Linked DNA regions of Homo sapiens. The protein of the gene in region 1 interacts with the protein of each later gene in a pairwise test. Each region holds a gene or a part of one and is shown on either strand. Other genes may lie near its edges.

Region 1 (3,988 bases):
TATATTTTGTTTTTAAAATTCTGTCAATAGAAGATGAAATACTATTTGATATGCCCAATGATTTGGAAACATTATAGAATTATCTTATTTTCCCTCTACTCTCTGAATGTATTGTTTTCTCCCTGTTATATAATACAGATAACAGTAAAGGAAAAAAAAATGTCTTCAAGGTAAACCTAAGTTATGTTAAACTGTAAGCCACCTCTCCAGTAAGACAGCAGATGCTTATTTTTTAGATAAATGTCATTTTCATGAAAAAATCAAATCAATTAATCAATTCACATCTCTTTATACTTTTAAAGTATGAATACTAGCAATATGTTAACCCTACATTTTCTTCCTGTGGGTAAAATTCACAGTATCTGCGTCAATGAAATGCTTTACTTCTTTTCATGGATGAGAAAACAATCTAGTATTTAAAAGCAGAGATGAAATAAGAAAAGAATTCACTATACATGTACAACCCAGAGGAAATGGGGAGTGAAAAAACTCAGTCAGAAAACACCGAAGTTGCAAGAGAATTTTCTAATCCCGTTGAAAAAGAGAAGGATTTTTAAGCTGAGAAAACTATGTTAAACCTCTCTAAGGGCCATTCTGTCCCCAAGAAGCAGCTTACCCCAAAGTTAGAGAGAAATGTGCACTTGATCAAGACAGGCAAGACGCACACACACACATACACACACACTCTCGCACACTGCCAGAATCTATTCTATCATAGCAACAAATTGACCTACTTTTTCTATTTGGGTGCCTCTGTAAATAAATGTGTCAAAGCCTGATCCAGTTTATGATAAATGAAAATATTTCAAGTTCGACAAAGGACTAGCTGAAAATTAAATTTAAATTTAATAAATACGATGACAACATTGCATTTTATTACATCACTGATGTAATTTAAGTAATTGAAATATGAAATAGTATAACTTAACATTCTTCTTTAAGAGGTCGTCAGTGTTTGAAACTTAATACACAATTAAATTATTCTGAAGCCTGCACAGAGTAAGCACATACACGCTAGCACGACCAATTAACTGCACAGCTTGAGAAATAAGAACAGCTCTCACTAAAGATGGGTAGTAACATGGGGGAAAAACAGAACAGTAATAATTTTTTAAAAATCTATAGAAACTTAAATGTGGGGACTATTAATATCTTGAAACTTCTGAAAAGATAACTGATCAGTGTAGCAACTAATCTGAAATCTTAAAAGGACACCAACAATCACAAAGTAACCCAGTTGTAGAAAATTCCCCAATGAATAAGTAATACATGCAACATGGTGTAATGATGGCAAAAATGGTGGGCTAAGGGGACAGTCAGGCTGAGAAAATTCTTGAAAGTTTCTAATGATAATGTAGAATCATCCCAACTTGCTTCACTTGGCTTTTTAATTTCTTTTTCCACTTTTCCAGTCAGTGGATGATTATAAATGTCATTTTCTACCTTATGAATAGAGTGGATTTTCAAATGCTTATTTGTAGTGTTTATTTGAAGGCCAGTTAATTACAGTTTAAGACCCCTAAAAAGCTAATTAATAAAAGACATCATGTTCTGATAACTAAAAGGCTTATAAACATCATTCTGAGTCCTATGAAACTGAGTCCTCAAAGCACAGATTAATAACAAATGGCATCTAGCAAATCTCTAGTAAACTTTCTTATCATAAAAACAAGTTTATGCTCTATTATTAAAGCCATATGAGAAACAGTTTTGGGTGTTTTTTTTTTTTTTAACTACAGTAAAGTTACTTACAAAGAAATGTGAAAGATAACTGGGGTAGTAGTAATAAAAATTCATTTTGAAACTGAAAAATTCATATTGTAATGTCTGTGATCAAAGGTCAACGTCTTTCAACATTCTCATACAAGTCCAACCTGGATAGAAATCAACTCAAATATAATTTAGAAAAATAACAGGATATCAAACAATGTATTAAACCCCGTGAAATACAGGCATACCTTACAAAAACAAGAAATGAATATTAAAGGCAATTTCAATTACATTGTTTCTGTTATATTTTGAATTGAATCCCAAGTGTGCTCTCATTCCTCAATACAAATTAAAAATAAACAACTTTAACAGCATCAATGGCATCTGGATTACAATGGAAATCATGAAGTATATGAGTTTAACCTGGGTAAAAATAAAGCCCAGGCAATATGACTGCACCTTTTCCATTCCATGCTGCAATCGCATTTACATCTCGAAATTGACTCTAATGACCAAGGCAAGGTCAACTAGAAAAATCCACTCAGCTGGTGAGTCAGGCACATTGCTCAACGTCCGAAAGGCCTCTCACAAAGGGTTTTAATTTTCAGGCTGTTGCATCACAGTGATGTTATAACTGCACTGCACAAAAATAAGTCTTTAACCCAGAAAAGGAAATTGTTTCAAAAACTACAGTGAGTGTGAGAATACACTTTGTTGAGGTGCAAATTTCCCCATCTGGTTTTCAGGCTCTGCGACCTGGGCTGCAAATTCATTTCTCTGAGTTTCCATTTCCTCATCTATGAAATGTGGATGATAACAGAGCCCCTCAACACTGTGCCTGGCACATGCAGAGTATGTGTTTAGTAAATACTAACTCTTTATCTCTTTTCTGAAGAATGATCAGTATCAAAAGGCAACGATGCCTATCAGTTCCAGGCTGTTTTTGCTGCTCGTGACTCTTACTGAAGCCCTGACCTATGTCGCAAGTGTAAGGGTAAACCAAATGAAAATTTGGTCAAAAGGGTCAAATATCAACAGTTTCACAGGACTGGCCTTAGTTTTCAGGCTACATATACCCCCTACAAGAGAGCTTATCTGTGGGGTCTCACCATCCACTGCTGATCTCAGACCACAAAGTTTTAGATAGAGAAATCATCCAAGCTACAGAAAATGAGTCACAGAATGTGTAAGGGAATTGGAAAAAGCTGAGCTATTAATATGGCAATTGTCACGTCATTCCTGCTACTATAATCGACTCATCTCTCTATTCCTTCAAGCAGCTCCCCAAAACATTAACCCAATGACTTGGGAAGTTTGAGGTTCTGCAATCCTGTCAGGAATTCCCCTCAAACTGAAATTAACATTGAACACGATGGCAAATTAAAAAATATATATATTATTAGAACAAAAAAAGTATCTCAAGAAAGATCTTACAGACTTAATTCCAACACGAATCCTTACTGTTACTGCGAAGAGATTTACAAAGAGAAAAATGAAGGTAAATACACACACACACACACACACACACACACACACACACACAGATTCTGGTTCCTGATCAATAACACAGGAAACATTTATTGAACTCCTCACAACCAACTAAGTCAACAGGTTTTATTCCCTCAGTTTACCCTGGAGAGTGATGGAAATCAGGACAGTGTTGGAAGATAACAAGCTGGGGCCTGGGACCCAGGGTTCTTGTGAGCCCAGGGCCTGCGCTCTTAGGATCTGTACCTCACCGAAACCTGTTCTCTAACTACTGCCTGTAACAGGAGGGAAACTGATTAGGGATAGCGGTGTAGGGTATGATGCCAAAGAAAGCAAGTTTTCGGTCAGTTTTCAACAAAGAGCAGATTGCGTTGATATGCTTCAGGAGAACATCTGTGATGTCTCCATGAATTACTGCATGGGTACAATCTTGGAAGTCTTTATGCGAGGATGAAAGTACTGTAGTTTTACAGTAGGACAGCAGCGTCTATGTGGGCGTTTAGATTTTATTTTGAACTCTGGAGATCAGTGTTCTCTCTCCTCTAGCCTTTGACCACATAAATTAAAGGTTAAAAAAAATCGGCTCAACTCAACTGGCCAAAGTCAAGCTGAGGCCTTCCTTTTAATCACTATCAATACTGGAGCGCCTCCACCCCCAATTTCTGTGGCCGGTGGACGTTTGGAGGTTTTTCTTAAGGTCTTTTTCACTTCAAGAATGGAGACGCGCTTGGTTCCGAAATACAATGAAGACTCTTGGAACAAAGGTGTCTGCAGGTTTCTGAACCTCACC
Region 2 (3,988 bases), on another chromosome or scaffold:
GTTAGTTTCTAAAAGATATCAATAGCTAATAAGTGGACCTAAGATAATCAGCTGAAAAATTATTTGAAATAATAAGAGAATGCAGTCAGCTTCTAAAATTAAAACAAAATGTAATAACGTTCCTATATGCAAAACATAACCAATTAGGAAATTAATGGAAGGAAAGATCCTGTTTATAATACCAATGACAACAGCAAATGGAAGGAAGGAATAATTTAACAAAAATTATGAAGAGTGTATCCTAAATGATTTTTAAAAGATTCAAATAATTGGAAAGATATACCTTATGTAAAGTTAGCAATTTTCCTTAAGTTAATTGATAAATTTAATGAGATCCCAATAAAAAACCCAATAGGGTTTTCTGGGATTTGGGCAAGAACTAGATTAGCTATTCTAAGTTTCCAGTGAAAAAAAATCATATGACAATTGCCAGGAAAATTCTAAAGAAGAAGTATAATGAAAAAAGATTAACTGACCAACATATTAAAGTGAAACACAAATACAGAAATCAAAACAATGTGGAAAAGACAGAACATTGAACAGGATAGAATATGGAAACAGACCCAAAAACAAATTCAGATTTTAAGACCCAAATACATATTTCAACTCCTAGGACACAAGTATAAATACAAAATGGGCTGGGCACGGTGGCTCACGCTTGTAATCCTAGCACTTTGGGAGGCCAAGGTGGGCAGATCACTTGAAGTCAGGAGTTCGAGACCAGCCTGGCCAACATGGTAAATGTTAAATTTTTTAAAAAAAGGAAGCTAAAGAAACTTGAAAAGACAAATAACCATTAAAAATTTATCTTGGAATGAGGAATTATTTTCTAAATAAAACATAAAACCCTGAAGCCATAAAGGAAAAGATTGATATACATTACTTTTATTCATAAAAAGTAAAAGTTTCTTTATAGATCAAAATACTGTATGCAAAATCAAAGGCAAATGACAAGCTGAGGAAAAATATCTGTAATACATATGACCAAAAAAGGTATGTTTACTTACTATATGAGAGAGCTCTTATGAATAGGAGATGATTAACAACCCAAAAGAAAAATGAACAATGGGCCGGGCGCGGCGGCTCACGCCTTAATCCCAGCAATTTGGGAGGCCGAGGCGGGCGGATCACGAGGTCAGCAGATCGAGACCATCCTGGCTAACACAGTGAAACCCCGTCTCTACTAAAAATACAAAAAATTAGCCAGGCGTGGTGGCGGGTGCCTGTAGTCCCAGCTACTTGAGAGGCTGAGGCAGGAGAATGGCGTGAACCCGGGAGGCGGAGCTTGCAGTGAACCAAGATAGCGCCACTGCACTCCAGCCTGGGAGACAGAGCGAGACTCCGTCAAAAAAAAAAAAAAAAAAGTAAAGAAAAATGAACAATGACTATGAATAGGCAATTTACAGAAAAGAGAAATAAGTGGCAAATAAATGTGTGAAAAGATGGTAGACCTTATTTAGTTAGGAAAATGCCAATTAAAGCAGCAGTGAGGCTGGCAAAGATGAAACATGTTGTTGATACACGATGTTGCCAAGGTAATGGAGAAGCAGGCACCATCACACACAGCTAGTAGTAGAGTCTGCATAACCCTGGTAGAAGGCAATTTGCCCACGTCCATTCAAATTATAGGTGCACATACCCTGCGACTCAGCAATTTGACATCCAGGAGTGTGTTCACAAACAAATCCACACATCATACAATTCTGTACATGTAAAGATAATCATTGCTGCATTGTTTCTTATAGGAAAGACTGAACATAAGCTAAAAAAATCCACCAATAAGGGATTCAATAAATTATTGTCCATTCTGTGGAATATTGCAGATATGTTAAAATAATGAGTTACATCTGAATGTGCTAATCTGGAAGGATTATCACTTCTGTACTTTAAGTTAAAAAGGCATAAATATAGTCCATAGTTTGCTACCATTAGTTTTTTAATTTAATGTTTTATTTATTTATTTATTTTTTATTTTTAGAGACAGGGTCTCACTATGTTGCCCAGGCTGGTCTCGAACTCCTGAGCTCAAGTGATCTGCCCTGCCCACCTTGGCCTCCCAAAGTGCTGGGATTACAGGTGTGAGCAACAGCACCCAGCCCCTTCTGTGTTTTTAATAAAAAGAAAAAGTTACATATATGCATAAGTATAAATGCAAACTTTTTCAAATAGATTATAAAAAATTGTTAATGATATTTATTTCTGAAAAGTAGGACTAAAGATCTAAAGCAAGAGGGAGATACTTGGCATTCTTTACCTTTTATACAGTTTGGGATTTTTTATCACATGCTTTTATCTTTATAATATAGATATCAAAATTCTCAGCATTGATCATTACCACACATGCATTAGGAGGATTTCTTTTCTAATTTTGACATCAAACATTGAATAATCTTCCATCACGACATGGAAGAGTATTCAATCTTGACGTTATCTTTTGAACATCATACATAAATATCTCAGCCCTTGGGAGAACCAACTGTAAGTTGGGATTTGAGTGACTCTAAGGTCCACAGTACTATATGATAAAAGATGGCAAATCCGTTTCCTTTGTGTAGCCATCTTGGTTGGTTGGTCATGGCTATCTGGTGCCGTACAGCTGGAAGGATTTCAAGTCAAAGACCAGGATCAGTGGAAAAGAGAGCTGAGGTCAATTAAGAAGCTTTATTCATGAAAAGGCTAAAATCAGTGGAGTTGCCGGGAGCAGTGGCAAATAGCAGTGTTAGCCCTGAGCCGAGCTGTTGACAAGTCATATCTGGCCTGGTGGATGGAGCTGAAAGCAAGTGAGAGTAACAGCCAAGTTTGAAAGCTTGAGATTTAGGTACTGTCTTAGATGGAAGTGGGCCAGGTGCTTGCCTGGGGCTGCCTCCTGAAGGAGTCTCACACCAGTATAAGAAAAAAGAGAGGTTTACAGGCTCCAGGGATGTGCTTTGTCATATATGACAGAAAAGTCATGAGTATAAATTATGCATTAAATGAAGCTTTGAGCTAACACTGTGAGAAATACGGTATTTACAATTGGAGAAAAATTGAGTAATGGAGGAAAAGATGTTTGGGTAGCACTATTGTTCTTGGCCTTCTGAGGAGGCAGAGAAGGATGCTTACGGTCCTATTTCACTCCTGGAATTCTTTTGCTCTCTCTGGGAGACCATGCCATAATGTTTGTTGGCACAGATAAGTCACAGGTCAGGAATGTTCAGGCTAGTTCCACCCTTAAAAAGTTCAATGTAGAATCAGTGAACCATCTATGGAAAGAGATGCGACCCTTCTGTCTCCATTGCTATGAATTTCTTTTAAGAAAAAACCATGTTAATTGAACAAACGACTATGTATTAACCACTGTGCCTCAAGTGCTCTCCCTGCAGCATCTCATTTAATCTGCATAAAAGCTGTATTTTATAATTCCTTGCATTAAGTAACTTGATGGAGATGACACAGCTTGTGACTAGGTCTGTCTGACGTCAGAACCCATTTTCCTAACCATTAAGTTTTACTGCCTCTTTCTTCAAACTCTGATGAAGATGTATTCATCTTCCCTAACCTATATTTTCCTTGAATCTCTACATGAATTAATTTTTTTGTCTTTTAAGCAATATCCTCCAAAATCTACACTGTCCCCCAGCCATCATCAGGCGTGATCAAGAAAGTAAAGACATGTTTACTTTCAATACAGTATATCCATTGTACAATTGATATCATATATGTCATATATATCATGATATCAACATATATAGATAGGTACTATATATAGATAGATACAATTGGTATATCAAATGATACAATATGTCAATTGAAATCTTTTTTGAGAAGTCTGTGTAGCAATAAATGTTAACATCTTTCACAGGAATTACCTTTGACACAACAGAGTTTGAAGAAAAAATAATTTACAAAGATGCTTAGTTCATCATTATCTGTGAATAGTAAATACTTTAACAATGCTATAAAACTTGACAGGGGGCTTACAACAGAAGATGAAGCATATTATGATACA
Region 3 (3,988 bases), on another chromosome or scaffold:
CTGGTCTCAAACTCCTGGCCTCAAGTGATCCGCCCGCCTCGACCTCCCAAAGTGCCGGGATTACAGACGTGAGCCACCACGCCTGGCCAAATAGCACATAGTAATATTTTAAATCAAATATTAGTAAAACCTCAAAACAATATTCTTACATTAAAAACTTTGTATATATGATCAACGCATAAACACCAACTTGGGAATACAAAAAACGAAATATACCATGACAGCTTTTGTTTTTTTCTTAAGACAGAGTTTCGCTCTTGTCGCCCAGCCTGGCGTGCAATGGTGCAATCTCAGCTCACTGCAACCTCTGCCTTCCAGGTCCAAGTGATTATCCTGCCTCAGCCTCCTGAGTAGCTGGGATTGCAGGCGCCTGCCCCCATGCCCAGCTAATTTTTGTATTTTTAGTAGAGACGGGGTTTCACCATGTTGGCCAGGCTGGTCTCGAACTCCTGACCTCAGGTGATCCACCTACCTCAGCCTCCCAAAGTGCTGGGATCACACAGGCGTCAGCCACCGCGACTGGCCCATGACAGCTTTACTTAATGATGTTTTCTGGAAAGAGATTTGTGCCCTTGCTGCTATATTATTAATCACTTTCTGAGTTTAATCAACTCAAAAAAGTCATAGTGTGTACATTTTAAAGATAAATACAAACAGCATGTATATTTAAAATGTACTACAGCATTCGGGCATGGTGGCTCACGCTTGTAATCCCAACTCTTTGGGAGGCTGAGGCAGGTGGATGGCTTGAGCTCATGAGTTTGAGACCAGCCTGGGCAACATGGCGAAACTCTGTCTCTACAAAAAATTAGCCGGGCCTGGTGGTGCGCGCCTGTTGTCCCACTCACTCAGGAAGCTGAAATGGGAGGATGGCTTGAGCCAGGAAACAGAGGTTGCAGTGAGCCAAGTGTGTGCCACTGCACTCCAGCCTGGGTGATAGAGCCAAACCTTGCCTCAAAAAAATAAATAAATAAAAATAAATAAATAAATAAATAAATAAAAAAGTATTGTAGCTCAATGCTGTTTCGAAAAGCTAGAGGAAAAAAAAAAGGTAGTGAAACGCATTTTGTGCTTTGGCTGAAATACGTATTACTTGGTCCAACTGGTTGACCAAAGGTTTCCCCACGGGGGTAAAAAAATCATCTATGCAGTAAAGTTTATCATCTCAGCAATCATATAGGTGAATCTCACTATTTTTAAATTTAGGTACAAAATATAAAACTCACATAATTACATTAAGAAATACTAGAAAATCGTCAAGGTAAGTTAACAAGTATGTAAAAAATAAATGAATGCAGGGAGAAATCTAGTATAGTAATCAGCCTTACTGGGTAATAATATCCCATGAGCTGTCTGTTAAAAAAAACCCAAAAAAACACCGGACTATATGAAATGTTCTTTCTCATTAAGAAAGAAAGCTATAAAAACCTTTTGGGCCAAAATAATAATTGAAAGAAGTAGTCTGTTCAGAACTGTAAGAACCTCAACAAAAGAGTTAAATTCACCTTGTGAGTTAACTCTTAACCTGGCTTGCTTGCCTCCTCATGTACATTTTGATCATTTTACTAAAACTTTTAAAAACTGGAGTTAAACAGGAAATGAGGGACTTTAAATAACAATTTCCTGTCACAAACTATTTATTTTTCATTCAAATAGAAAGTTTTTCATTTAAAGAAATAAAGGCAAGATGGCAGTTTCCCTTAGTTTAAAAGGTAATATAAGACCTAAGAATAAAAGCAGCTCACTAACTGGTTAATACAGTCTACTTACATAATAAAATGCTTCCAATTGTATGTTAAAAAATGAAGAAGCTCTTTATGTGCTGATACAAAATTGCTAAGCCATATTAAGTGGTGGGGGTAAAGCATGATATAGGAGAGCGTATACCTAGTATGCTACCATTTGTACAAAAAGGGGGAGACTGTACATACATATTTGCTCGTGTTTGCATAAAACACCTCTTAAAGGACAAATAAAAAATTGCTAACACTTAGGTAATAGGGCAAGAGAATGTAGGGCATTTTGCTGTTATTATGTTTTGAATTATAGATCATGTGAATGAATTACTTATTCAAAAAACCAAATTAGAAATATAAAAAATATACTCCTCACTTCACCAAAGGTGATCCCTTTTTCCTTTGACTGCTTTCTTTTGACACATATTTTGCCTTAGTCACTGTGTCCCCAACAGTTCCTGAGGGTAGAGATAAGACAGCGTAATTCATCTTTGGATTTGTTGTAGCTTCTGACCCACTGTATTACATATAGTAATAATAAATAATTTAAAAAGTAACAGACCAGCTGGGCGTGGTGGCTCACGCCTATAATCCCAGGCATTCAAGACCAGCCTGACCAACATGGTGAAACCCTGTCTCTACTAAAAACACAAAAATTAGCCGGGCGTGGTGGTGCATGCCTGTAGTTCCAGCTACTAGGGAGGCTGAGGCAGGAGAATCACTTGAATCCAGGAAGCAGAGGTTGCCGTGAGCTGAGACTGCATCACTGCACACCATCCTGGGCAACAGAGCAAGACTCCGTCTCAAAAAAAAATTAAAACAAAAGAAAAAAGCCTTGTCAACACTTGAGCACTTGACACTTGCACAATGCCTGGGACTTAGTATGTATTACTTTATAGTTAACCCCCACAATTCTGAGGTAGTTGTTCTACACTGATCAGAAAGGAAAGTGAGGTATTAAGAAGTTAAGATAACTTGCCTAAGGGCCCACAGGTAGGAAGTTAAAATAAAGCTTAAGGGACTAGCTATCATTAGTTGTAGCCCTAAGGTACTTTATGTTTATCTCGCAATCTTATGAAATAAGTAGTAGTATTCTAATTTTACATATAAGGAAACTGAGGCTGAGAAAGATTAAGAAACTTCCTTCAGGACACAAAATTCCTTTAGGGTGGGTACAGGATAGCAGTGGCAATGCTTGGATTCAGACCTAGGCCTATGATTCCAAACCTCATGCTCTTTCAACTACATTCTCTGTCACAGTGAGTGCCAAATAAATATTTGAATTACCATAAACTGCTGTCTCAAGTGATACTGCAGTACAGATGAGTTTACACATGGGTAAGAAAAAAAAAAATCCTGCATTTTTCCATCTTGACATCTCATTACATTCTTAAATTTAGATTTGAGCTCTATTCAATAAAGAAGCCATCAAAGTTACACCATATATCAAGATATTTGCAAAACTATGTCACAAGCTGGCTGTAAACAAGTTTATGTAACTCATATCTGATAAGCTATTTATGGAATAAATGAAATTATAAATTTCGGTAATATATTGTAAGCATTAGGTTAAAAATAATTTTCTGTTATAAAAAGTAGAATTTAAAAACACGTGAGGAAGACATACTTGGTTTTACTATAACCCCATAACCATACTGTATCCAAACAAACAAAACCAAATGTCTTAGAATGAGAGAGAAATAAAGCTACTTCTCTATGAAGAACCCAAAATTTCTAATAATGAGACCTAATCAAGAATATGAGTTTCAGAAAGTAGAAAAAGGTGCCATTTTTATGGATCAGGTGTCTAAGTTTCTTCAGGCTCTTTATGTAAACAAAAAAAAAATCATTCAAAACAGGTAACACTTAAGTTTTAAATTCCCAAAGAAGTGTTCTTTTAACATTCTTCAAGCAAACTCTGTCAAGTAATTTATTAGCTTTCTAAATGTAGGTGTTCATGAAAAAAAAAAAAAGATTCAAGCAGATCCAGCTGTAATTTTTATCCATGGCTGGAACAGTGCAGAAGTACAATTTAGTAACATGTTCCAGGTGAATGTTCAAGTATTAATGAATACAAGTTTGAAGTTTCACCTGGAATTGCTAAGAATCACAAATTATGAATGTATAAATAATAAAACAGGCCGGGCGCGGTGGCTCACACCTGTAATCCCAGCTACTCGGGGGGCTGGGGCAGGAGAATTGCTTGAACCCGGGAGGCGGAGCTTGCAGTGAGTGAGCCGAGACCAGCCCAC
Region 4 (3,988 bases), on another chromosome or scaffold:
ATTTGTGAAATCCATTTAAGGTAAGCAAGATGACGTTCGATCTCTTCAATCTGGCTAATCATGGTTCCAAGATCGTCCATCCAAGGTTGCGCAGTCAGCAAATGGCTGTTAATGGCGCTGAAGAGATGAGTTTCCTGCTCCAGAAACTGATTAAGAAATTGCTTTGATTCTTCTGCATTTTTTAAGGCACTTCGAATTCTTTTAGGAATTTCTGATGAAATTGTAAGTACCTGACCATAATTTTAAAAAAGAAAGAAAGAAAGAACAGCAGCAATCAGATAAAATTTTCATAATTTTTTTTTTGAGAGGGGATCTCACGCTGTTGCCCAGGCTGGAGTGCAGTGGTACCATCATAGCTCACTGCAGCCTGGACTTCCTGGGCTCAACCAATCCTCCCACCTCAACCTCCCCAGTAGTTGGGACTACACATATGCACCACTACACCTGGCTTTTCTTTTTTTTTTTTCTTTAAATAGAAATAAGGTCTCACTATGTTGCCCAGGCTGTATGTAACCTTTTTTATTAGTTCGTTCCCTTCAAAATACACATTTTTTGTAACAGAACTGAAAATCATCCATCAAAACCTTCAAAAAAAGGTTTGATTTCTTCATCCTGTACTAATCAATCCAAACATAACATGCTGTTTTATATACACACAAATAGCAGGAAGAAGTATGCCTTTGTGTTGAAAACAATAAGTGAAACAAAAAAATAAAAATAAAATAAAAAATATATGCATACATACATATACACATACATGTAGAGAAAGGGACTTAACTCACTGGCTCCAGTAAGCATCTAGAGGTCTGCCTCCATAGGCTCAGCAGAGGATCCAGCTAGAGAAAACTTATTTTATTTTTTTGAGACAGAGTTTCGTTCTGTCACCCAGGCTGGAGTGCAGTGGCGTGATCTCAGCTCACTGCAACCTCCACCTCCCGGGGTCAAGTGATTCTCCTGCCTCAGCCTCCTAAATAGCAGGAATTATAGACACGTGCCATCACGCTCGGCTAATTTTTGTATTTTTAGTAGAGACGGGGTTTCACCACGTTGGTCAGGCTGATCTCGAACTCCTGACCTCATGATCCGCCCACCCCAGCCTCCCAGAGTGCTGGGATTACAGGCATAAGCCACCGTGCCAGGCCGAGAAAACTTATTAATACATGCTCTACCTGCTAAATATTTTCCTTCAAAGCAAAGGAAGGGCCGGGCACGGTGGCTCACACCTGTAATCCCAGCAGTTTGGGAGGCCAAGACAGGCGGATCATTTGAGGTCAGGAGTTCAAGACCAGCCTGGCCAACATGATGAAACCCCATCTCTACTAAAAATACAAAAACTAGCCAGGTTTGGTGGCACACACCTTGTAATCCCAGCTCTAGAGAGGCCAAGGCAAGAATCACTTGAACCGGGAGGAGGTTGCAGTGAGCTGAGACTGCACCACCGCACTCCATCCAGCCTGGGTGACAGAGCAAGACTCCTCAAAGAAGAAAAAAAAAAATGCAAGCTGGGTGCGGTGACTCACACCTGTAATCCCAGCACTTTGGGAGGCCAAGGTGGGTGGATCACAAGGTCAGGAGTTCAAGACCAGCCTGGCCAAGATGGCAAAATCTTGTCTCTACTAAAAAATACAAAAAAATTAGCTGAGCATGGTGGCACATACCTGTAATCCCAGCACTTTGGGAGGCTGAGGCAGAGAATTTCTTAAACCCGGGAGGCAGAGGTTGCAGTGGGCCGAGACTGCGCCACTGCCATCTAGCCTGGGTGACAGAGCGAGACTCCATATCAAAAAAAAAAAAAAAAAGGAAACAAAGATCTCATTCTAACAGGCTGAGCATCTATATTTTGCCAACATACCCCAGGTGATTCTGAATTAAGGCCAGGCTAAGAAGCACTGACTTGATGAGATGATATCCAGGCAATGCCTTTAGAAAGGGCATTTAGTGGCCAGGTGCAGTGGCTCACACCTGTAATCCCAGCACTTTGGGAGGCCAAGGAGGGCAGGTCACTGGAGGTCAGGAGTTCGAGACCAGCCTAGCCAACATGGTGAAACCCTGTCTCTACTAAAAATACAAAAATTCAGCCGGGCACAGTGTCTCATGCCTGTAATCCTAGCACTTTGGGAGGCAGAAGCTGGTGGATCACTTGAGGTAAGGAGTTTGAGACCACACTTGCCAACATGGTGAAACCCCGTCTCTAATAAAAATACAAAAACTAGCCGGGTGTGGTAGTATGAGCCTGTAATCCCAGCTACTCAAGAGGCTGAGGCAGGAGAATTGGTGAAACCAGGAGGCGGAGGTTACAGTGAGCTGAGATCGCTCCACTGCACTCCAGCCTGGGCGACAGAGTGAGACTCTGTCTCAAAAAATAAAATAAAATAAATACAAATACAAAAATGAGCTGAGGATGGTGGCGCATGCCTGTAATCCCAGCTATTCAGGAGGCTGAGGCAGGAGAATCACTTGAAACCCGGAAGGCAGAGGTAGCAGTGAGCTGAGATCACACCACCACACTCCAGCCTGGGCGACAGAGGAAGACTCCATCTCAAAAAAAAAAAAAAAAAGAAAATGGCATTTATTAAGTGAATTTTTCTTATAGTATGTGGGAAAACATATACAAATATTAGTCATCAGCAAAATACAAAGAACATTATAGAATAATTTCAATCAACAGTGATTAGATACTTATTCTGTACCAGGCACTGCGCTAGAAATATGCAGATAAACAAGACACAGCATCCGTCCTTCAGGTCACTTTGGTATATAAGAGTGTTGTAAGCAAATAATTTCAACAGTGGGATTAATGCAATAAAATAGACAGGCTATATTTAATGAATGGGCACATTAATCACCTAAAGATCTTGTTGTAATACAGATTCTGATACAGTAAGTCTGAAGTAAGACTGAGATTCTGCATTTCTACAAAGCTCCCAATCTGCCTAAACTAACATGGTATCAGCAAGAGTGGGAAAGATGGGCCGGGAGCAGTGACTCACGCCTGTAATCCCAGCACTTTGGAAGGCCAAGATCCACTTTCGGGCAGATCACCTGAGGTTGGGAGTTTGAGACCAACCTGACCAACATGGAGAAACCCCATCTCTACCAAAAATACAAAATTAGCCGAGCGTGGTGGCACATGCCTATAATCCCAGCTACTTGGGAGCCTGAGGCGGGAGAATCACTCGAACCCAGGAGGTGGAGGTTGCAGTGAGCCAAGATTGTGCCATTGCACTCCAGCCTGGGCAACAAGAGTGAAACTCCAACTCAAAAAAAAAAAAAAAAAAAAAAGAGTGGGAAAGATGGGATGGATACCAGAGATGTTGAGGCTGAACTCAGATGACTTGGTGATGGGATAGAGGATGAGAGGATGATAAGAAGGAATCTAGGACTCCTAGGCTTCAGGTCTGGGTGACAGGCAAATAGTGGTGCCATTATCTAACCAAGACAGACAAGCCTCTAAAAAATGGATCAGTATAGTTTTGGACATGCTGAATTTAAGGTTCAATAAGGAACTTCAGTAAAAGTTTCTGTGGTCATTAGGGAAACAAACCTGATTACAGTGGGTAAAAGATGAATGACAAAAAGTAGAGATAGATAACAAAGGTTACTTTCTGAAGCCTGACAATCAAAGGAAAGAACTAATACCTGCTAAAAGATCATGGGTTTTTTTGTTTCTTTGTTAAGGTTTTATGGAAAAGACCTGTCTATGTGCACATGCTGAAGGGATAGGACTGGTTGACGAACACAGGGTAAAATTATAAGAGTGACACAAGTTTACTGAGGTGGCAGAGAGAACCTGGGGTATAAGGTCTGCCTTCGACTGATCCTTTGCTGAATGAAGAGGTTAAAAATGACTGCACATAAATTTGTCGATTGTGGGATAGACTATTCAACAGACTGAATTCAATGCTACTAAATTCATGCTAGGCTTCTATTTTTTTCTGCTAGGGAAAAGGAAAGGGCAGAATGGACAGGTTGGGTAGATGTCTCAAAC

The links.
Region 2: the proteins of NFIL3 (region 1) and BATF come close enough for resonance energy transfer, tested with the Homo sapiens proteins (one large-scale study listed by BioGRID and IntAct).
Region 3: the proteins of NFIL3 (region 1) and CREB1 interact in binary tests that used the Homo sapiens proteins (3 or more experiments, as listed by UniProt).
Region 4: the proteins of NFIL3 (region 1) and RINT1 interact in binary tests that used the Homo sapiens proteins (3 or more experiments, as listed by UniProt).

What each region holds. Positions count from the first base shown.
Region 1 is NC_000009.12:91,417,139-91,421,126, forward strand, and holds part of NFIL3 (nuclear factor interleukin-3-regulated protein), read right to left. Parts: intron 2,218-3,988; exon of another isoform or gene 1-2,217.
Region 2 is NC_000014.9:75,528,716-75,532,703, forward strand, and holds part of BATF (basic leucine zipper transcriptional factor ATF-like), read left to right. Parts: intron 1-3,988. UniProt on the Homo sapiens protein: AP-1 family transcription factor that controls the differentiation of lineage-specific cells in the immune system: specifically mediates the differentiation of T-helper 17 cells (Th17), follicular T-helper cells (TfH), CD8(+) dendritic cells and class-switch recombination (CSR) in B-cells.
Region 3 is NC_000002.12:207,532,808-207,536,795, reverse strand, and holds part of CREB1 (cyclic AMP-responsive element-binding protein 1), read right to left. Parts: intron 1-3,988.
Region 4 is NC_000007.14:105,538,650-105,542,637, reverse strand, and holds part of RINT1 (RAD50-interacting protein 1), read right to left. Parts: intron 912-3,988; exon of another isoform or gene 783-911; intron 231-782; coding exon 1-230. UniProt on the Homo sapiens protein: Involved in regulation of membrane traffic between the Golgi and the endoplasmic reticulum (ER); the function is proposed to depend on its association in the NRZ complex which is believed to play a role in SNARE assembly at the ER.